Linked DNA regions of Homo sapiens: all the other regions are reported to be linked to region 7. Evidence: microRNA targets listed by miRTarBase, many of them from high-throughput screens and not tested one by one. Region 7 holds a microRNA gene; each other region holds the end of a gene's coding sequence.
Evidence for each region. The annotated mature microRNA hsa-miR-200b-3p reads UAAUACUGCCUGGUAAUGAUGA and lies in region 7 at 1,231-1,252, shown strand. An mRNA with a match to its seed (bases 2 to 7 or 8) in the 3' UTR can be bound and repressed. Matches are read on the target gene's strand: a 7mer-m8 pairs with bases 2 to 8, a 7mer-A1 pairs with bases 2 to 7 and ends in A, and an 8mer does both.

Region 1 (3,081 bases), not on the chromosome of region 7:
CCAAAGTGCTGGGATTACAAGCGTGAGCCACCACGCCCAGCCACTTGAAGATTTTTCTTGTTTTTGATCACCTTCTCATACTGGCCTTACTCAGCTTAGTAGAGTAAGCACTGAATTGGGTAAGGTAACCTCACTTCCTAACATGTCAGCTTCTTATCTTTTCTTCCTTTACCTAGGTGAGAAGAAATTTGCCTGCCCTGAGTGTCCTAAGCGCTTCATGAGGAGTGACCACCTGTCAAAACATATCAAGACCCACCAGAATAAGAAGGGAGGCCCAGGTGTAGCTCTGAGTGTGGGCACTTTGCCCCTGGACAGTGGGGCAGGTTCAGAAGGCAGTGGCACTGCCACTCCTTCAGCCCTTATTACCACCAATATGGTAGCCATGGAGGCCATCTGTCCAGAGGGCATTGCCCGTCTTGCCAACAGTGGCATCAACGTCATGCAGGTGGCAGATCTGCAGTCCATTAATATCAGTGGCAATGGCTTCTGAGATCAGGCACCCGGGGCCAGAGACATATGGGCCATACCCCTTAACCCCGGGATGCAAGGTAGCATGGGTCCAAGAGACATGGAAGAGAGAGCCATGAAGCATTAAAATGCATGGTGTTGAGAAGAATCAGGAGAGGGATACAAGAGAGGAGATGGGGTCCCGGCACCCATCTGTATCATCAGTGCCTCTTTGAAGGTGGGAAACATTAGTGAAAATTCTGTTGGTGCCACGCTTTGATGAGCATTTGTTTGACCCCAGTTTCTTCTTACACTTCTTACCCCAGCCTACCCTTCCTGCATTTCTCTTCTCAGCTCTTCCATGATGGATTCCCCCCCCTTTCCTAAAGCCATCATGCCTTGATAAATATATATGATCATTGAAATACTTTTTAACAAAAAACAGATTCTATATTATTATATATATATATATATATATAAAGATATATAGAGATGCATTCACAGGGGTTGGCTGGGAGGAGGAAGACCATTCTGTGACCAAAATACCTTGGTCATTTTTTTTATATTGCCTTATTTCCCTATGGCTGAGCCTTGTTGTGACACATCAAGCTTTTCTGTAGATGTTGTCTTGGCTTCCCACCAGCTTAAGCGTTCATATGCTCTGCTTTTAGTTCATATATACATACATAATGTTTTTCCTTTCTTAATTTTGTCTTTTTGTTTGGGATCAGCTTCTTGCACTCCTTCCCTAACTCAACTGTTGCCGTCTCATCTTCTCTCATCTGATCACTTCATGTTTTGTTTTTGTTACTGCCTGGATGAGGCACTTCTGTCAATTTTTTCAGGACCTTAGTTCCAGCAGCAGAATGGAAAAATCCTTGAAGCCCAGGCTGATGCTTGAAGTAACTGTGGAGGGAGTGTTCAAAATACTACTGACGCAGGCACCTTCTTGGCGCTGGAGAGTCAAAGGCATCTCCCTTCATTAGCTGCTCTGAGCATCAAGAATTAGAAGTCTTTCAGTGGAATTGTACAAGAGTCCCTTTGAAGATAATAATCTTGGCTCAGTTTGTATAAACTGTCAAATTTTCAAATAATAGGTAGGGGGCTTTCACTAGGAAAATCATGTGCTCAGAAGAGGAAATGACTCGTAGTCAGGTTCAGGAGTTAGTGGAGTATTTGGACTTTGGTACTGCTGTCTTCCAAGGTAGCTCTAAGTTTTGATGTGTGGGCTTCTGAGTTTATATTCTGAAAGGAAATACACTTCTTTTGAACATCCCCACTAGGTTCTTTTCCATTGTCAATAAGGAGCATCAGCCAGTGAATCTGTTTCAGGTTTCCATTCTGCAGAACTCCTCCAAAGCATGTGCTAGTGGCAAGACAGTGGTTCTTATGATGTTTTCCCTTAACTTTTCCTTGTATGTTCTTGGGTGGTTCCTAAGGGAAAGGGAAGCACATGATCATGGGAATGATAGCCCAGAACAAAAAGAAATCTTGTCTTACCACAGTGTTTTATAGGAGAGATTGGGAGAAATCATCCTGTTTTCTCTGTGACCTGATTTCAGAAGAGACTGATCCAAAAATTATAACGGCAGGGAACCTAGTGCATTTGGCACTGAGATTTAAATGCAACCAGAATTGTCCTCAAGGCCCAGCCATAAAAGCATTGTCTCTCTCGACCTTCTGGTATCTTGTTAGAGAGCTTTTCACTGTGAGGAAGTGTGGAAAAATAGCTCTGTGTGTGTGTGTGTGTGTGTGTGTGTGTGTGTGTGTAATCTGTTAGGTTGGGGATAGGTTTTCTGCTAGCCAATATTAAAAGAGACCTGCAATAAAAAAATTACCCTGATCTGATAGAAAGCAAGTGTTTTTGTATGTGTGGGTGAATGTGTGTTCATGCCCGTATATGTCTACACACAGATGACAAATTATATTTGAAATCGTTGGAAAATAAATTCAGATCAAAATGCCTTTCAGGCCCATTACCTAGAAATCTATCTTAAAACCTGGGTATGTTCCTAAGGTCATTTCTTTGCTTATGCTAAATTAATTACAATTATGAATGGAGGATATTCTACTGTACTTTTTTAAAAAGAAACTATTTTTGTGTTTGAAAGTGAAACCAACATCCAGATCTATAGCAGAGTCCTTATTCTTCTCATAAATCTTTTTACTTTGGCTACAAATAGATGATGGTATGATTCTATTATATATTTTATATAAAATCCATCCAAATTAAGTTTTGGGTAAGTGTGTTGTTTAATCTGAACTATAGTAACTTAATACTCTAAACAATAGTTCACTCCATTTGGTCCTTTCTCCACAGATGTAATTATGTTTTCAACTCAGGAACTATGGCAAGGAACTTTCCCCAGATCAAATTCTATTAACGCTGAGATACAAGTCATCCATGCACAGCCACTATCATACCCTTTATTCTCACTGAAAGGCAGAACTCAGAACCTGTTATTTTATGTCTGTAATCATGTACTTTGGCATCTTTTGGAGGAAAGGGGCAGGATAACTCACTGGAATGTACAGTATTTTGCTAGTGCATTTCAAGGAATGGAATCTTCTCCAGTATGAAATTACCAGATATAAAATAATGTAATGATGCTGAGGATATAAGCTTTTAGAAGG
Region 2 (3,081 bases), not on the chromosome of region 7:
TCCACTCCTGGTGATTGAATTCCGTGGGATTGATTGGAGGGATTACAATCATGTAGCCTGTAGCAGAGACCTCAGTCACTGTGCAGAGAGATCTGGAAGCCTCATTCTGGAAACGAGTGGGACTTGATTTGGGATTTTGGGGAAAATGACGGCCTTTTTTCCCTCCTCTTTTTGTAGGCAGAACAGTATCAAAAGAAGAATCGGAAGATGCTTGTGATTTTAATATTATTTGTCATCATCATTGTGCTCATTGTTGTCCTCGTTGGCGTGAAGTCTCGATAAGTGGCATTGGGTTTTCGTGTGTGCCGCGCGTGTGGATCTCCCGGGTGTGAGGGGCTTGGCCTGCGCCCCGCCAGCTGCCCGCAGAGGTGCAGCCTCGAGGAATCTGAGGGCGTCGGGGCAGCGAACCTTTGCATCCACGGACTCCTCCTTCCCTAGTCCTGCTCAAGCGGTCCGGGGAATGGGTTTTTGTTTTTCCTTCATTGTTGAGAATTTAAGGACCTTTGATACTGCTGCACAATAGAGATTGAGTTCTGGGATCAGTTATAATATATATTTTTTTTAGAAAGAGAAAATGAGCTGAGAGTTTACAGGCACTGCAGAAGCTGTTCAGTATTATATGTGTATATGCTATTTTTTTAGCAGCCATGTCTGAGCAGAATGTTAACATAATTTTTGGAAAAATTTTCTTTAAACCATCTGGTTTTTAAGAAATTTGGTACCAAAAATTGATGAGTAGAGGCAAAAATGCCCCTTCATCTTTCTCTATATATTTTCCAGTTGAAAACAAACTAAGAAGTCCTTTAAGAATTTATAATCCGTTCCCCATTAACTTAATTTAGCTTTTCCATCACTGTTAATGATCAGAGTAACAAAGTGTGAAAAATAAGAAACCATCATTGATGTTAATTAACACATTTAGATGGGCCAGTTAAAACAGCTTCATAAGTTTTAAATTAATTGTAAATGGAATATTCCTCATTTAAAATTTTTGCACTGCATTTTCTACTGTAAACCAAAAGAGGTTACTAAGCAAAACCACCTAAATTTAAGTTGGTGATTTAAATGAATCTCACATTAAAAGAAAGCTTGACAGTGTTATGAAAGCCACCAGACTCAGCCAGTGTGTCCCCATGGGTATCCCCAGCCATCCTTGCTCAATCCATTACTTATATACTAACTACATAATGACCTGTTCAAACCAGACTCTATTTAATGAACTGTGAATTTACACAGAGGCCATTTTAAATGGGTCACCCCATTTAGGATTAGTGGATCTCAAATTATTAACCAAACATCACTCCATTTCAAAGTAAAATATTCCACCAGCGATTTGATTTATTGGCTCTTCCATTGCCACTGAGCAATGCCCAGGAAGCAGGCACATTGCCAAGGACTGGGGGCATCTTGACTAGGAAGCTCCTCGTTTGTGTGAGCGTGGGTCAGACCGCCAAAGTAGGACTTCATCGTTTACCTACCTATTATCAATATGGTGCTTGAATATATTCCTATAACTGTAGAACAGTGTGGAAAGTGATGGTAACTTTGAAGTTGTTCATGTTTTATTGGCTTTGTTTTAATTGACACTAGTAGAGTTTTAATGGTCTTTGTGTAAATTTTAATGGCTTTTCCATTGTTTTTGCTTCTCTTAAAAAGTTTAAGAAGAATATGACCTCATTAAATGTGCTGTTTTATTTGGACCAGTCACACAAAATGTCTCTCTAGAGTTGACTTTAAAGTTGTTTACAGAAATTTAAACTCAATTCCAGAGATTGAAGTTGTCCAAACAGCTCATGGGCTTAGTGTCCAAACCCCTGCCCAGCCTTCCCTTTCCAAGTTGGTGCCACCTCCAGGTAGCCATTGGTGGTTTTCCTATTACTGATGTGGCTGTGGAATGATAAGGTCCTAGAGGGGCCCTGGCATTTCAGGAAGCGGACCTGGTATTCCCTGACAAACATTGCTTAGGAAAGAGGGCCGGAGAATAAGAAGCCAGCACCTCATCAGTCAGCCCTGCAATGTGAGACTTCCGTAGCTGTTGAGAGTCACTGCAGGTGTTCTTTCATCCCATCTGATTTTAACCCATGGTTGAGACGTTCCAAGTTAGATCTGCTGCTCTTAGGTGTGGGGCTGTCCACATTAGGGAACTTGCCTCAAAAACAGTCCACAGTGGCAATACCGGACTTCTGTTCAAGCTTTTTAAAGTGCTGAGCCTTACAAACCCCTGAAGGAAAGTGACCCTTTAAGAGAGGATCATCTTTTTTTATATTTATTTTCACCAAATAGGGTGATGAGGGTTGGTTTTTGTTCCCTCAACCCATTTGGGTAAAATAACGGATCTGATTAGAAACTGTTTTAAGGAGGGGCTGGGCTCGGTGGCTCACGCCTGTAATCCCAGACTTTGAGAGGCCAAGGCGGTCACGAGGTCAGGAGTTCGAGACCAGCCTAGCCAACATGGTGAAACCCCGTCTCTACAAAAAATACAAAAATTAGCCGGGTGGGACACGCCTGTAATCCCAGCTACTCAAGAGGCTGAGGCAGGAGAATAGCTTGAACCCGGGAGGCAGAGGTTGCAGTGAGCCGAGATCACACCACTGCACTCCAGCCTGGGTGACAGAGCGAGGCTCCGTCTCAAAAAAAAAAAAAAAAAATTGTTTTAGCGCTGGGTTTCCCAAGGTGGGAGAGACAGACCCAGCCTGGAGCTGGCCCCTGGCCTGTGTGCTGACTTCTTGGGGTCCTCAAACCACTGTATTTTTCTGTTGAGCCTGTACTTGGGGAGAGATCAGTAGCATTTGAGGAAGTAAGAGAAAAGAATCATGGTACCTCAGGGTTTCTTTCCCTTTACTCGCTGGCAGCCATTGTCTGTGGGCACCTCATGTTTTTCCACACTCTACTGGGCCGTGGAGGTAACGATCACCCAGGCCAGTCTCCTCTGCCTGGGATGCGCCCTCTGAGAGGAGGCCTAGCAGGGCAGGCTCCCTCTGGGCATCCCTGGATGCAGCCTCTGGACACATGCCTCCTTTAAAGTGTCCGGGTGCAGCTCAGGTTGAGTGGAGGTAGAAGGAGAAACAGACATGTTTACCA
Region 3 (3,081 bases), not on the chromosome of region 7:
AAGCCCCTCCCGGGGTGGGGGTGGTGGGGAGACAGATGCAGCTAAACTGCTTTTCACAAGTTGGAAAAAAAACCCAACCCTATAAACTGGTCTTTTGTCCTTTACACAATTTCAGGTTCATTGCACGCAATTACATAAACTCCCACAAATCGGTCGAAGAGTTCAAAACTGCAAGACCATGTGATACCAGTGAGAAAATCTGCTCCACACTGTGGCAAAGTGTCTCTGTTTCAACTGCTGCTATTTCAAAGAACCCTTCCAAAATTTCTGATCAGGTTCTTAGGACGTGAGAAATGACCTCTCAAGAGGGCAGGACAAAATGGAAAAGTGTGGTCTGCATTACGTGGAAGTGTGTTGTGTGAGATGGGATCTCCTCTCACTTCCACCTCCTGACCTCCCATCTTTAAAAAGCTGAGTCTGCCTTAGTATCGCTCCCTTGGAAAGTGATCTGGCCAACTGGACATGTTGCAGTATTTCCCCATCTAACACTATCGTAGTGCTAGTGCAAATCAAAGAGAACTCTTATAAGCCAGAAATCGCTGTCCAGTAAGAGCTAGTGGTTAGTAGTTTGCTTTGTGGAAATTCTTCTCCCAAGTCCTCCAAGGAGAATTACTGGGGCCAACTAAGGCCCTGAACATTCAAAATAAAAATTACCAGAAGAGAAGTTCTCCAAATCATTTTCTCAATTGCAAAACTCAGGAGGTGTTTGCATTCACAGAACTGTTCTTTCCCAGCTGTAACAAAGGAAGCCTCTCCCGGTGGCTACTCTTTGTCTTCTTACCCCAGTTCTGTGCAGCTTGCAGAAGCCCTTCTGGGCTTCCACTCCATGCCCCACAGGGCTGGTGCTGCTGTCCCTATGGAGGAAGGAGACTTGCTATAAAACCCTTGGCGAAATGCCAGGGGCCGCATGCCATCTTTCTGCAGTCTACGTTAAGACCACAGCTGTGAGCCTTCTCAAGAAGCCATAGGTATGAATCGGGGGCAGGAGGGTGCCCAGGGCAGAAACGTCTCCACCAAAAAAGTCCACCTTCCTTTGGAGGCACCAACCAGGGGCTGTCCTTTCCTCAACTGCCCAGCTCTGCAAACATTCTGTGGAGAGAAGGTGGAGAAGAGATGGGCAGTGCCTCTACCCCAGCTAGGCTCAAAGACGCCTGCTATCAGGAGCTCCTGATCTTGCTTGGTCAATCTCCATAGCCAGGCACCCAGGTCCAAGCATCTGTCTCCCTCCTCAAACGATATCAGCTGCACTGATGCCCAGCTGCCTGTCAAGCTTCCTGATAGGAGTCCCAGGGCACAGACTGTTCTTGCCCTTTTCTCCCATTGGGGTTGGATTTAAAGATCACATAGGTGGCTGCTCAGAGGAGCTGAGGAGAAGCTCCATCCTCCCCATGCACCTTCACCAGGTGGCCTAAAGAGCTTCCCTGAACCCCACACTCAGTAGCAAGATGAGGCTTCATTCTTGGAATGCATCTCCACACACAAGGTGAGGGCAACTTGCAAGAACCCAGAGGTTGGAAAGAATGGTCTTGACTGCAAACATCGCCCCAGCTTCAAGTGCAGGAAGACCTTTGATGACATGAAGATGGGCTGCGTTCAAGGCACCTGTCATATCTGCAGGTAGCCTCGACATTTCCCTTCAACCTGAAACTTCCTGGCCACCAGGCCACCAGGCCCTGGCCACACTAGCTGGTCAGCACTGTGTACGCACCAGCGAGATCTTTGTTTCTTGAGACATTTCCTTCCACTCAAGGAAGCGCCATAGAGACAGGCTGTCAGCTGGGTACAGAGAAACACACAGGATCTTCTCTGTCTCCTAAAGGTAGCCATGGAGGCAGAGATGGAGGCAGAATCCACTCTTCACAGGTTTCCACATAGAACATCACATATGTCTTTGTCATTTAAAACAATCAACGTTTCCAGTGTAAAAATACGTGGGCTTATTGCATCTACCCCACGGATGGTTTATCTTTTTCTTTCCATCAGACTTGCCGCAAGGTTATGTGGCTGTTATTTTGTTAATTTCCAAGGCTCTTACATTCACTGATCCTTCTAGGCATACAGGGAGAATTTCTACCAACATATAAACAACCCAAATGGTGAACCTGGAGAACCCTCTTCCCTCTCTAAACACAGACAGACGTGTGGCTGCTCCCTGGCACTTGAGAGGAGAAATCTTTCCTTCAACCTAAATACCACTCAGATCAGTGGCTCCTCTGATTTTCCTGCTCACGAGCAGCACATGTGCCAAGCTCACGGCTCTTGTGCTGGTTGCCTGGAATTTAATTACATGTGAAAGTATCAGGTAGGCACATGGACACGTACCATGTGTGCACACACATGTACACACACACATTTTGGGTCCTCCTTATAACTAAAATCAAAAGTCCTTGTGAGCAGAAAAAAGGAGGGCAGGGGTCCAGGGATAGGGAGCTGTCTGCTGACTTCTACATCCAGCTCCAGGTAGCAAATGATGGCTTGGCCGGAGCTGGGGAGGTTTGTGTCTAAATGTTTCCATGGAAAGAAAGTGCCTAGCTTCCTGGGGGTCTTATGGGCAATGGCGGTTCCTGGGGTGCCCAGATCCCCTCGTTCTCATGGCTCAGATTGTTGCTGGGGTCTCGGCTATCTCCTCCAGCCTCTGTCGAATCATTAGCCGGAGCACGGTGTACCTGGAGACAAGAAACAGGCTCAGATGGAGAGCAGCCAGCAACACACCCCTGCCCAGGACCTTCCCGGCCACCTGGGTAACACCAAGGTCACACCAGGTAACAGTGCAGTCAAGTGCCCTGCTCCTTTGCTTCCATTACTGACCCCTCTTTAGCTACTTTGTTGCTTATGTTCATTCCTACAACACGATGAGAGGAAATAAAGAGGCCAAATCCAAATTAGATTATTTTACTATGGGTAGAACATCTAGCCAAAAAAAAAAAAAAAAAAAAAAAGGTAAAAAAAAACAACAGCAATAATAAGCATTCTACGAATTCAGTGCGTTTGCTTACTATGTCCAAGACACTATGCATAGTACTTCATATGCACAGCAGCTCATGAACCCTCACCTAGGCTAGATGATATAAAATTGCTAAC
Region 4 (3,065 bases), not on the chromosome of region 7:
GCCGCAGACCTGGGGGTGAACCCAGTCCCGAAGGCACTACTGGCCAGTCCTACAACCAGTATTCTCAGAGATACCATCAGAGAACAAACACTGTAAGTGCATTAGCAGCACAAGTGTGTTCCCTCATACTAGACAGTCTCTTTCTACAGGTATCTTTCTTCAGAATGAACCAAGTGTTTTAATTAATTAAAAAAAAAAACAACTCATAAATGACTTAAGTGAAACACTGTATTCCATAATATAGTTTAAGTTATAATTTATGTAACTCTTGAACATCTCCTATTGCCCAGTATGCTGCTAGGTTCTTGAAACTAGGAAGAAATATTATCCTATCTATAAGCAGCTGTCATGAGTCCCCACCTCCCCGCATTTTTTTTTCTGTACACTTTACAGTATTTGCCACTAATTTTTTTTTCCTTCTTCCTTTTTAACAGAATGTTAATTGCCCAATTGAGTGCTTCATGCCTTTAGATGTACAGGCTGACAGAGAAGATTCCCGAGAGTAAATCATCTTTCCAATCCAGAGGAACAAGCATGTCTCTCTGCCAAGATCCATCTAAACTGGAGTGATGTTAGCAGACCCAGCTTAGAGTTCTTCTTTCTTTCTTAAGCCCTTTGCTCTGGAGGAAGTTCTCCAGCTTCAGCTCAACTCACAGCTTCTCCAAGCATCACCCTGGGAGTTTCCTGAGGGTTTTCTCATAAATGAGGGCTGCACATTGCCTGTTCTGCTTCGAAGTATTCAATACCGCTCAGTATTTTAAATGAAGTGATTCTAAGATTTGGTTTGGGATCAATAGGAAAGCATATGCAGCCAACCAAGATGCAAATGTTTTGAAATGATATGACCAAAATTTTAAGTAGGAAAGTCACCCAAACACTTCTGCTTTCACTTAAGTGTCTGGCCCGCAATACTGTAGGAACAAGCATGATCTTGTTACTGTGATATTTTAAATATCCACAGTACTCACTTTTTCCAAATGATCCTAGTAATTGCCTAGAAATATCTTTCTCTTACCTGTTATTTATCAATTTTTCCCAGTATTTTTATACGGAAAAAATTGTATTGAAAACACTTAGTATGCAGTTGATAAGAGGAATTTGGTATAATTATGGTGGGTGATTATTTTTTATACTGTATGTGCCAAAGCTTTACTACTGTGGAAAGACAACTGTTTTAATAAAAGATTTACATTCCACAACTTGAAGTTCATCTATTTGATATAAGACACCTTCGGGGGAAATAATTCCTGTGAATATTCTTTTTCAATTCAGCAAACATTTGAAAATCTATGATGTGCAAGTCTAATTGTTGATTTCAGTACAAGATTTTCTAAATCAGTTGCTACAAAAACTGATTGGTTTTTGTCACTTCATCTCTTCACTAATGGAGATAGCTTTACACTTTCTGCTTTAATAGATTTAAGTGGACCCCAATATTTATTAAAATTGCTAGTTTACCGTTCAGAAGTATAATAGAAATAATCTTTAGTTGCTCTTTTCTAACCATTGTAATTCTTCCCTTCTTCCCTCCACCTTTCCTTCATTGAATAAACCTCTGTTCAAAGAGATTGCCTGCAAGGGAAATAAAAATGACTAAGATATTAAAAGTATTTGAATAGTATAATATGGAGGAGTTTTATCTTAGGGAAACCCCATGGTATGATAACCCCCATCTAACATGTCTTACTTTGGGTCAGCTGACACTTTTGGCATGGCTTGATAAACTCCCAGCTAAACAGTTTGTTTACTCCTGATCTGTAAAGGTCATTTCTTTTTCAATTTAACATTGAGGAAACAAACTTTGGGATTAAATTTGACATTCAGGCCAGGCGCAGTGGCTCACACCTCTAATCCCAGCACTTTGGGAGGCTGAGGCAGGTGGATCACCTGAGGTCAGGAGTTTGAGACCAGCCTGGCCAACATGGTGAAACCTTGTCTCTATTAAAAATACAAATGTTACCAGGCATGGCAGTGGGCGTCTTTGGTCCCGGCTACTCAGAAGGCTGAGGTAGGAGAATGGCTTGAACCCAGAAGGCGGAGGTTGCAGTGAGCTGAGATTGTGCCATTGAACTCCAGCATGGGGGACAGAGCAAGACTCCATCCCAAAAAACATAAATAAATAAATGTGACATTCAGAATAGTAAATAGTGGAAATGGAAATAATTATTAGTAAAAAATTAGTAGTTCATAATAAACAAGACATGCAAAGCACTTTTTAAATATACTAATGTACAATGAAAGAAGGTATTTCAATAAACACCTGGCAAAGAATATTAAAACTAAATACAGAAAGATACTTCCTCATGTTCATTTGAAAAAAAAAAATACTAACTCCCATTTGAATTGATTTACAGTTTATAAAATGCTTTGACATTTAGCTATCTCATTTAGGGGAGGTTTTAGAGCTTAATTTTACAGGGCATGAAGCTCAGATGAGGTTTCCTTAGCGAAATACAGACCCAGCCCCTGGACTTCTATTTATTACTGATCTTTAAGCTTTATCAGCCCAATAGTCACCAAGAGAGCTGCTCTGTATGTTTTTTAAAAATCACAGAAAGTACAAAATAAAGGTGATATTAAACGACTGTCTCACATATGTCGGTCATCACTGCACCCTGGAGAGAGAACGTCATCTCGATGCCAATCTACACACTGTGGGAAGGGACAACCCCCTGAGACACATGTGCTGCAAAAAGTAAGCTGATGCTTCCATATTCATAGGTGAGCTGGTAAAGCAGGCCCTTCATCTGAATCTTGCTTAAAGCCTTGATATCTAAAAACATAAGGAAAGAGCAGCTTTAGGTTGAGACTGATGATGCTTCAAACCACTTGCCTAACTACAAACCTAAAAATATTTACCCTAAAATGCAGTGTAAGGGCCGGGAAGGGTGGTTCACACCTGTAATCCCAGTACTTTGAGGCGCCGAGGTGGGAGGGTTGCTTGAGCTCGGGAGTTCAAGGCCAGTCTGGGTAACATAGCGAGACCCCTGTCTCTACAAAAAATAAAACAATTAGCCAGGCATGGTGGCACATGCCTGTGGTCCCCATAACTCGGGAGACTGAGA
Region 5 (3,077 bases), not on the chromosome of region 7:
CTTCTGGGCGCCGCCTCCTCTCCTCCTCTTCCTATCTCTCCTCCAACATCCAGCTTCCATGCTACCCTTTCCAGAAACATTTCCAATTCCCATCAGCTAGGTTTTCTTTCATGGATTCCCTCTTGCATTCCTTGCATAGATCACTTGGTGCTTTGTACTTTGTCATGCTGTCTTCTAGACCTTAAGCTGGTTAGGTTGAGGGCAGGGCTGCATGCTGTTCATGTGTGCTCTGCCTGGCCTGGCACAGATGTAGCTGCTCCATGGATATCTGCGGGGTCACTGAGCTGAAGCAGGTGGATGCTGGATGCTTGATACTAGATACATTTTCTGGGGCTGGCTCTGATTAATGCTGAGTGAGTTCACCTCACATTAAGATGCTGGTAAGGTGGCTCATGCCTGTAATCCCAGCAATTTGGGAGGCCAAGGTGGAGGATCACTTGAGTCCAGGAGTTCGAGACCAGACTGGGTAACATAGCAAGACCCTGTCTCTATAAAAATTTTAAAAAGTCAGCCAGGCATGATGGTACACACCTTTGAGTCCCAGCTACTAGGGAGGCTGAGGTAAGAGGACTGCTTCAGCCCATGAGTTTGAGGCTACAGTGAACTACAATTGTGCCACTGCATTCCAGCCTGGGTGACGAGACTGTCTTAAAAAAAAAAGATGCTGGTTGTTTTCAGACTAAAATAGTAGCAACAGGTCAACGTATCTGAAATCCTTTAGCAGTCATATATGGTTAGTGTAAATCTCTGTGATAAAAGAAAGATCTGGAATTGATACCAAAGCAGCTCAGTACTTTTTAGTGTACTAACACATTTGTTTTAACAACTTGTTCACAGCTACTGCAATGTTCAGATGGAGGATCAATAATCTCTCCATTCTTTGAGCATCTAGCATATTACTGGACTCATGTGTAATCTCTCTCAGCCTTCTAGGTTTTATTTCCACACATTTTCCTTCCCTTCAACCCGATTCCAACTGACTTCTTTGTATTCAGTTAGCAAACAGGAGTGTTCCCCTAGCTTCATCTTCTCTGTTTTTAAAAGACGGAGTCTTTGGAGTGCAGTGGTGAGATCCTGGCTAACTGCAACCTCCACCAGGATCTGATTCTCCTGCCTCAGCCTCCCAAGTAGCTGGGACGGCAGGTGCCCACCACCACGCCCTGCTGATTTTTAGTAGAGATGGGGGTTTCACCATATTGGCCAGGCTGGTCTTGAACTCCTGACCTCGTGATCTGCCTGCCTTGGCCTCCCAAAATGTTGGGATTATAGGCGTGAGCCACCATGCCTGGCAAGTCTTGTTTTTTCCAAGAAGTTACTTGGGACTTAGGCAGATATGATCCGTCTTCTTAGGTCCTCCTTCTCATCCCTGTAAGATGAAGGTGATTGGAAGACCATGAGGTCATCCTTAAGGGGTCCTGTATCAAGGTGTTAAGTAGGTTATCACTTCCACCTTGACTGTTAGCTGGTACCTGCAGTACTTTTTCCCAGAACTTTGGATAAATTCACCAAGATCTACTTGTGAATACATTATACGTAGTAGATTAAAGAGGCTATAAGCTAATGCTTTCACTTTTTCCTCTGAATCCTAAGCATTAGGCACTTAAAACGGGTGTACTCCAAGACAAAGATGTGTTATCAAGTGAAACAAAGTCAGGGTGTCTGTCTCACACAGTTTATTTAACAATAGGTAATAAGAAATCAAATTTAACAGTCTATACAGTGATCCAAAGTTCATATTTATAAGTAATCAACTTTAATTGCATGATTTACAACAGTTGAGGGTTTTTGCTATTTTCAAGTTTTATAGAAAGTGTGTGTGTGTGTGTGTGTGTGTGTGTGTGTGTGTGTGTGTGAGTGGGGGGTAGGGTAAGGAGGAAGAAAGCAAGCAAAGAAGAAACCCCCAGGGACATTTTGCATGTTAAAATCATCCCACCGGAATCGTTTCTTACCCTCTTTTTAATTTTTTTACTTTGTTAGATGTAAAAATAACGAAAAAAATTCTTTCAAGAAACAGAAACCACAATATATAATACATCAATTTGGCAGCTGCCCCTGTATATTTTTGAAAAAGTCATTTTTCTCTCTACATGTACAAATTATTTTAATACTTGAAGTTTTACGCTCAGACTTACAGAATAGAAAATTTTCTGGAGCACAAAAGTTGACTTGAGGGGAAGAAAGGCAGTTTTTTTTTTTTTTTAAACATTTTTTAAAAGAATGAACATCTTTGCACCCAGAGAAAAAAAACTGGTATTTTAATATATATTTATATATATTTATATATATATAGAATGTAATTTTAAAGTAACATTAACCCCTTTTGTCCTCTGGTTTAGAAATGTTTTAACTCTTCCATAAAGTGAGGAAAATAGGGAAAAATGTCAACCATCTGCACCAGTAAATAATAACTATTAATATTACATATGTTCATTAATTTAAAAAAAATAATAAAACCTATTGGAGGTGCAAGGCAGGAGCATATTGTTTGGCTTCACAGGCCTCAGCCTCCTCCCAGTGCACACTTGAACCACACACACAAAGGGGAAGAAAGGCTGGTGGTAACCAGCCATAACAAAAATATATTCTTTGTATTCTATCATCCCTCAGGTTCATCTTGCATGTTTGCTTTAAACCACAAACGGCTACTGCACAGTTCTTATGTGTTCCAAGGAAAATTGTCTTTTAGGCTACGAAAGATTCAAAAAAATTGTTTTCAGTACAAAAAGTCTTGTTAAGAGAAAATAATTTTTTTGCTCCCAAAATACTACAAGGTGTCTCTAGTGTATGTCTAGTGTACTCTGTGAGAGGTTTGAATTCAAGTCTGAGTTATCGGTGCTGAGTCCCAGGTCCGTGGCGCTTGCACCATGGAGGTTTGCCATGCCTGGATTGCTAGCAAGCTGAGAAAGCATTGAATTCTGGTCCGGGCTGGCAAAATGCCCTTGTTCCATGGGGTTGGCCTGGGCAGCTACCAGTCCAGGATGTGGGGAACTTGTCTGTGGGGAAACGTGGTGTGGAGAAGGCTGAGGCTGCATCCTTGGGGAAGGACTGGAGTGGGGGGGCTGGGACTGTGGCCGTGG
Region 6 (3,078 bases), not on the chromosome of region 7:
ATACTTTTCAGTCCTTTTCCTGATTACATCTCCTTCCTTCTTGAAAGTCTTTATTCCTTTGGCTTCCCTGACATCATTTTTATTGGATTACTTTCTCTATTTCTTCCTTTTTGTTTTGGGTGTCTCCTTCTGCCTACTCCTTAAACTTGGTTTTCTCAAGAAGTTAGTCCTTGGGTTACTTTTCTGTAACCCTGCATTCTCCCTAGGTAATTTAATCCACTCTCGGTTTTGATTACTGTCCACATGGGGTGTATTACTGCTCTCAAATATCTGGCTCCTATTCCAACTTCTGTCTCACACTTCGGGTTTTTATAGCCAGTTATCTTTGGGATACCTGTTTGAAACAACTCTGGTTATACTCTACTACCAACTTTTGCCACATGCATTCCTTCATGTTGAAATGGCATCATCCAGCAATTTCTCCTATTCCCCAACTTCCCATACCTGACGATCATATCTGAATAGTCATTTCTCTCTTCAAGCTACATATCAGAAGTCTTATTGTTTAAAGAAATTCTAGGCCGGGTGCAGTGGCTCACGCCTGTAATCCCACCACTTTGGGAGGCTGAGGTGGCGGATCACCTGAGGTCAGGAGTTTGAGAGCAGCCTGGCCAACGTGGTGAAACCCCGTCTCTACTAAAAAATACAAAAATTAGACGGACGAGATGGCGGGCGTCTGTAATCCCAGCTACTTGGGAGGCTGAGGCAGGAGAATCACTTGAACCTGGGAGGCAAAGGCTGTAGTGAGCTGAGATCACGCCATTGCACTCCAACCTGGGCGACAAGAATGAAGCTCCATCTCAAAAAAAACAAAAAACAAACAAAAAAAAACCTTTTTTTTTTTTTTAAATCATCTATAGATTTTAAGGCCCTAAACAGTCCATAGCAAAAAACTAGTGTGTATATTTAGTTGGTTGAGGCACTTCTTTCTAATCATGAAAAGTTGAGCAACTATATGCTACCATAGTGCTGAGCCACCAGTTATTTTTGCACATTAACAAGTGGAGCCCTAGTTTAACTCTAAAAATCGCCATGTAGAGCTTACTTATACTTTCAAATAAATTTACATGAATTTACTTAATATATTAAAATGCCACTTAAGTAATTCCATAAACTATGGCTCAGCAGTCCATCTTTCCTTGAGAGTGGCCCTGGTTAATCTTTATGTTAATTTTTTTCCAAGACTCCTGGGTTTTACAGTTAAGAGGTTCAGTTAATCATTAAACTGTATCGTTGTTAGCACGTAGGTAGCTTTATATTACTTGTACCAACAAAACTTAATTTTTGACACACCTCTAATAACATCACTTTTCTGTTTTGGAAGATCAAAGCCATCGGCCAGACAGAGTTGAATGCAAGCAATCCAGAAGAAGTGTTACAGCTGGCAGCGCAGAGAAGGAAAAAAAAGTTTCTCCAAGCAATGGCAAAACTTTACTTTTAAGCAGTTAAATTTTTTTAACTTTTATTTTTTAAACAATGGGCTAAAAATAAACAGTATTAAAAGGTTAAGTTTATATAATACATATGTACACAATTAGTGGTGTTTTCTTTTCAGACAAAATACTGAAACAAATATTAGTTTAAAAACAAACTATACAGAAGACTTCATACCGTAACAATAAATGTATAGTTTCTTCAAAGGGAGAAGAGATTCACATATCTGATAACAAAATAAACTAGCAATCTAGTTTTCTAATCTACTTTATGAGGCTGGATTTTTTTTTTAGAAAAGCTAATTTAAAATATTTAGAAATAGCTAGCCTATGTACAGCAAGTTTTCATGTCTTTTTTTAATAAATAGATTTCTAGGAGTCAGTATATATTTAATACTCTTCTTCCTTAAGAAAATAGAAGTTTAGGTCAAGTGTTAAGCTTTATCACTTTGACACTGTCCTTATCTCACAATGGAGGAATTTAGAAAGGACCTTAACAGTTTCACAAACATAAATAAAGCCTTAGTCACACTAAATTAAAAAAAAAAATTCCTTAGGGATATCTTAGAGTAGTAAAGTGACTTCCTCATATAAATAGTTTGAAAGGGTACTTAAGTTTTTCACCCAAATTGTGATATACAAAAAGGTTATTACCAAGCAACCTACATGTCAAGAAAGCCCCAGTTAGGAAGGAGCCACAGCATTTATCTTGTTTATAATTTCTTTGGTACTCCCACTGTTTAGAGCACAGGTTGAACACCATGTTCATCTAAGCCTTATTAGTTAAAAAATGTGTTATGGCAAGGCAAATAAACTAGTTTAAAAAACATTAAATTTCACCATTTGTAGAAATTCAAGTTTTATAATAGCTTGCTATAGCAGCTATAGATAAATTAGTCACCTTATTACAAAACTAAACCTTTGTAAACAAGTTTAAATTTAATTTTCAAGAACCAAATTGCACTAGTCAAGAGTGTAGGAATTTTGAGAATCTAACAACTAGATTCAAAGTACTGTATCACTTAGTATACCCTTTAAGGTAGCACTTATCCAGTCCAAAACTCCAGTGACAAAATTCCTAGTTTATCAAGATAAACACAGTAACACTGGATTAAAGGAAAAACATTGCTATGGTATAGACTGTGGTTGGCTTCTATCCAGTAACCTTGGGAATGAAGACATCTTTGTAAACAAGTCCTGCTGTTTCTTTAACAGCTAACATAGGAAATAATTAAATGTATTCTTTAGTGCCAATTGTAAGTTTTAAAATCAGAATGGCAGTGTAACTTGTGAATTGGCTAGGGCAATCAATCACAGCACTACTTTCTGTAAAACTTTAGTAGTTCAGTGATACCAGTTCTACCCAATCTTGGTGAATTCCAACTTGTTTGCTTAGTTATCTTCTTTAGTGTTTTCCTGGTGGTTTTTCAGTGCTCTTCGGTGGTGTCATAATGCCTCCATTGCACACTGGTGACAACTGTCCCCCTTTTCTGAAGGTGTTTATGTAATTTACTTCCTCCTATACATGGGAAGAAATCATGCACTGATTTCATAAATCAAAGTCAAACCAGACTTCTGGGTACTTATTTGAGATTATTTAGGCCTAATTTTAATAGTCTTTTTATGTCTTTGCAAGTGTGAAGGG
Region 7 (3,081 bases):
GTCCAGGCGTGAGGGAAGCTGGGTCAGGACCTCGGAGACGTGGCCTTTGGAGGAGGAGACTGGAACCGGGTGGACCCGGCAGCAGGCGGGGGCGGGCGGACACGACCTTTGTTGTGGTCGGCGGGCAGACAGGGGAATCGGCACAGGGCCTGCGCCCCACCTACAGCCTCTGTGGGTGGAAGGTGCCAGAAAACTTGAAGAGTGGCTCTGGCCAGCTCTCTGGGCCCAGTTGGCACCAGGTGGTTGCAGAGAAAGGGTGGGAAGGAGGACAGGAAGGACGGCGTGTCCAGCGGGCGGGGAGCCTTGGTCTGGCCTGAGGGCTGAACCTCCCTCGGGTCCTGAGTGTGCCTGGAGTAGAAGCCTAGGGTCTCTGGGCTCCAGGCAGGGCCCTGAGCAAGGAGGGGCCACAGGGCTGCCCACTTCCTCCTGCCCCCCTGCAGAGGCGGCTCAGCCCTCGCGGCGTCTGAGGCTTGACTGCCTGTGTCTGTGTTTGTGGCCGGTCTGCCTCTGTGCCTGGGTCAGACCCCAGACCAGCAGACACACAAACCGCAGGGACGGCTGGGCAGGGTCAGGAGCCTGCCCCGCCCGCACCCCCACCCACACCCCCACCCCCACCCCCGCCTGCACCCCCTGCCCTCAGACGCTGTGCAGTGAGCGGGGCAGCATGGGAGAGGGGTCTCCAGGTGGCGGGGACCGTTCTGTCTCGAGAGCCTCGCAGACACCGGGCCTTTGAGAAGAGAAGGGGCTGGGCAGGGAAGCAGCTCCTGGAACACCATCCTGGAGACAGAGGCCCTTGTCCCCTGCCTCAGACAAGGCAGCACGTGGGGCCCGGGGGGCTGGGGCTGCTGTCCAGGCCTTCCTATGGGACCACCCAGAGGGAAGGTCCCCCGCAGAGGGGTGGGGGCAGAGGGCCGAGCGGGGCGGGCAGAGGGCCCGTGTCAGCCCCACTCCGACCTAGTCCTCGGCCGTCTGGCCAGGACACTTCGGCCCCCCAGGTGCCCACCCCAGGACCCAAAGCTGGTGGCTGCTGGACTCGGCAGGGCTGGCGGGTGGGGCTCACCCGGGCCCCTGCCCTCCGGCGATGCTGTCCTCAGTGCCCCAGGAGGACGAGGCCCCCCAGCTACTGAGCTTCCCAGCGAGTCCCATGCAACCCTCAGCCGGGCGGCCCCCGGACCCAGCTCGGGCAGCCGTGGCCATCTTACTGGGCAGCATTGGATGGAGTCAGGTCTCTAATACTGCCTGGTAATGATGACGGCGGAGCCCTGCACGCAGCGACCGGCCGACCCCGTCCCGGCCCCCAGGGCCTCCCGCCGAGCCCCACACTCCCCTCCCACACAGCCCGCTCACCGGACCCCACCCCGTCCGGGCCAGATGGCTCTGGGGAGAGTGACGGGGGGACGTGACCTTCGGAAGGGGGCTGGGGCGCCCCCCACCAGCATCTCAGAGACCCCGGAATGCAAGGCCTCCTGCAGCTGCACCCAGGGCGCCCCACAGTGATCTGGGGATTAGGACGCTCAGGTGTCCGGGCCCTGCCCACAGCGCCTGGGCGGGAGCTGCTGTCACACCCAGCAGGTGCGGGCCGAGCAGGACCCAACAGAGGGCTCAGGAGGGCAAGGCCCAACCGGGAGCCACGTGGAACCCAGAGGAAGCCGCCCCACCCAGCTTGGCCACAGCCATCTTCCCTCCTGCCGGACAGGGTGGGCCGGCCACCGAGCAGACCAGTGCCCCCGCCTTGGTCCCGGGTCAGCAGCCCCAGGGTCCCCTTGCCCTGGAGGAAGCAGGGAGGGTGGGCCTGTGTGCAGTCTCAGGGCCCCCAAGCCCCTCTCCGCCAGCCCTGTCCGGTCCCGGCACCACCCCTGGCTGCTCACCGCTCCGGTTCTTCCCTGGGCTTCCACAGCAGCCCCTGCCTGCCTGGCGGGACCCCACGTCCCTCCCGGGCCCCTGTGAGCATCTTACCGGACAGTGCTGGATTTCCCAGCTTGACTCTAACACTGTCTGGTAACGATGTTCAAAGGTGACCCGCCGCTCGCCGGGGACACCACCGAGGCACATCCGGAGCTCCTACTCCAGGGATGGGCTGGGGCGGAGGGCCGAGCGGGGCCAGCAGACGGGTGAGGGCGGAGGGCCGAGCGGGGCCAGCAGACGGGTGAGGGCGGAGGGCCGAGCGGGGCCAGCAGACGGGTGAGGGCGGAGGGCTGAGCGGGCGGCAGAGGGCCTGTGTCAGCTCCGAAGTCCAGCCCCCAGGGGAGGGGCCGGCCTCTGCCGGGGGTGCCCCCGGGGTCACTCACGCCCAGGCTGGGTCTGACACCTTGAGGACCCCTTGGTGCCTCCACAGGTGGCCTGGAGGGCATCCTGCTCCCCCTCCCGGAGCCGCTGTGCCTCCCCCACCCAACCTCCCAGGCTGGGTTTTAGGGTGACCTGGCTCCAGGAAAGGCCATAGGGCTGGGATGCCAGGGCTGGAGAGGGAAGAGCAACAGTGGCCTCTCTCACGTGGTCCGGGCTCCGTGGAGGGTCTGCTGGGGGCGCAGGAAGGACAAGGTGGGTTCAGATTCCCGAGCCCCACCATGCAGGGGAGCGGGGACGCTCTGCGCTTGCCCTCTGAGGGACAAGGGGTCTCATTCCTTCCCCCAGTCAACAAGAACAGGAACTTTGTCCAAAACCCACCAGGCCAGGATGACCCATTGTTTCATCTTTTCCATCTGCAACCAGGGCGCCTGGGACCGCACCCCCACACAAGGCCCCAGCCTGGGGAGGGGGCAGCCACCGGGGAGAGGCTGCCCTTCACTGTTACTCATTAACCCGACCGAGCTTCAGGAAGCCAGCGAGGGGCTGCAGGGAACCTTTGCCAAGAGCAGGGCCTGGGTGACCAGGTGGCTCCCGGGTACCCCCACACAGCCAGGCTGGGCTGGGACCAGGTGCTGGGATGGGGGCTGTCAGGGAAGTGCCTCGGGGGCTCGTTCTGCAGACCCAGGAGGGATCAGGGCAGCTGCAGGAGGTGGCAGGAGCCGCCCCCGGGGCCTTCCCTTCACAGGCCCCGCAGACACCAGCCCAGGACCCGGAGGCCACCCACACCACCGCCGG

Region 1: miRTarBase lists SP1 as a target of hsa-miR-200b-3p. Seed matches in the 3' UTR shown: 7mer-m8 at 2,980-2,986.
Region 2: the mRNA of STX16 is a reported target of hsa-miR-200b-3p. Seed matches in the 3' UTR shown: 8mer at 611-618.
Region 3: the mRNA of RASSF2 is a reported target of hsa-miR-200b-3p. The part of its 3' UTR that is shown has no 7-base or 8-base seed match.
Region 4: the mRNA of FN1 is a reported target of hsa-miR-200b-3p. Seed matches in the 3' UTR shown: 7mer-m8 at 751-757 and 7mer-m8 at 1,037-1,043.
Region 5: the mRNA of EP300 is a reported target of hsa-miR-200b-3p. Seed matches in the 3' UTR shown: 7mer-A1 at 2,103-2,109.
Region 6: miRTarBase lists CCNE2 as a target of hsa-miR-200b-3p. Seed matches in the 3' UTR shown: 7mer-A1 at 1,825-1,831 and 7mer-m8 at 1,560-1,566.

Annotation. Positions count from the first base shown.
Region 1 is chr12:53,410,751-53,413,831 of GRCh38, forward strand. It overlaps SP1 (Sp1 transcription factor), which reads left to right. Exons shown (of 6, transcript NM_138473.3): 6 at 177-3,081. The coding sequence ends at 490. Among named protein-coding and RNA genes, the nearest start is that of AMHR2, 12 kb to the right of the region's middle.
Region 2 is chr20:58,676,010-58,679,090 of GRCh38, forward strand. It overlaps STX16 (syntaxin 16), which reads left to right. Exons shown (of 9, transcript NM_001001433.3): 9 at 178-3,081. The coding sequence ends at 282. The region is part of intron 8 of STX16-NPEPL1 (STX16-NPEPL1 readthrough (NMD candidate)); the gene reads left to right. Among named protein-coding and RNA genes, the nearest start is that of NPEPL1, 15 kb to the right of the region's middle. RefSeq lists enhancers at 1-343, 344-868.
Region 3 is chr20:4,781,677-4,784,757 of GRCh38, forward strand. RASSF2 (Ras association domain family member 2) reads right to left here. Exons shown (of 12, transcript NM_014737.3): 12 at 1-2,666. The coding sequence ends at 2,597. Among named protein-coding and RNA genes, the nearest start is that of RASSF2, 40 kb to the right of the region's middle.
Region 4 is chr2:215,358,996-215,362,060 of GRCh38, reverse strand. It overlaps FN1 (fibronectin 1), which reads left to right. Exons shown (of 46, transcript NM_212482.4): 45 at 1-92; 46 at 435-1,196. The coding sequence ends at 506. It also overlaps a transcript of ATIC not described here. Among named protein-coding and RNA genes, the nearest start is that of ATIC, 48 kb to the right of the region's middle.
Region 5 is chr22:41,178,657-41,181,733 of GRCh38, reverse strand. It overlaps EP300 (EP300 lysine acetyltransferase), which reads right to left. Exons shown (of 31, transcript NM_001429.4): 31 at 1,657-3,077. The coding sequence ends at 2,778. Among named protein-coding and RNA genes, the nearest start is that of EP300-AS1, 17 kb to the left of the region's middle.
Region 6 is chr8:94,878,794-94,881,871 of GRCh38, forward strand. It overlaps CCNE2 (cyclin E2), which reads right to left. Exons shown (of 12, transcript NM_057749.3): 12 at 1,431-2,952. The coding sequence ends at 2,839. INTS8 (integrator complex subunit 8) reads left to right here. Exons shown (of 27, transcript NM_017864.4): 27 at 1,325-2,953. The coding sequence ends at 1,441. Among named protein-coding and RNA genes, the nearest start is that of CCNE2, 15 kb to the right of the region's middle.
Region 7 is chr1:1,165,930-1,169,010 of GRCh38, forward strand. MIR200B (microRNA 200b) reads left to right here and starts at 1,175; the gene lies at 1,175-1,269. MIR200BHG (MIR200B, MIR200A and MIR429 host gene) reads left to right here. Exons shown (of 2, transcript XR_007065348.1): 2 at 1-3,081. MIR200A (microRNA 200a) reads left to right here and starts at 1,934; the gene lies at 1,934-2,023. MIR429 (microRNA 429) reads left to right here and starts at 3,076; the gene lies at 3,076-3,081.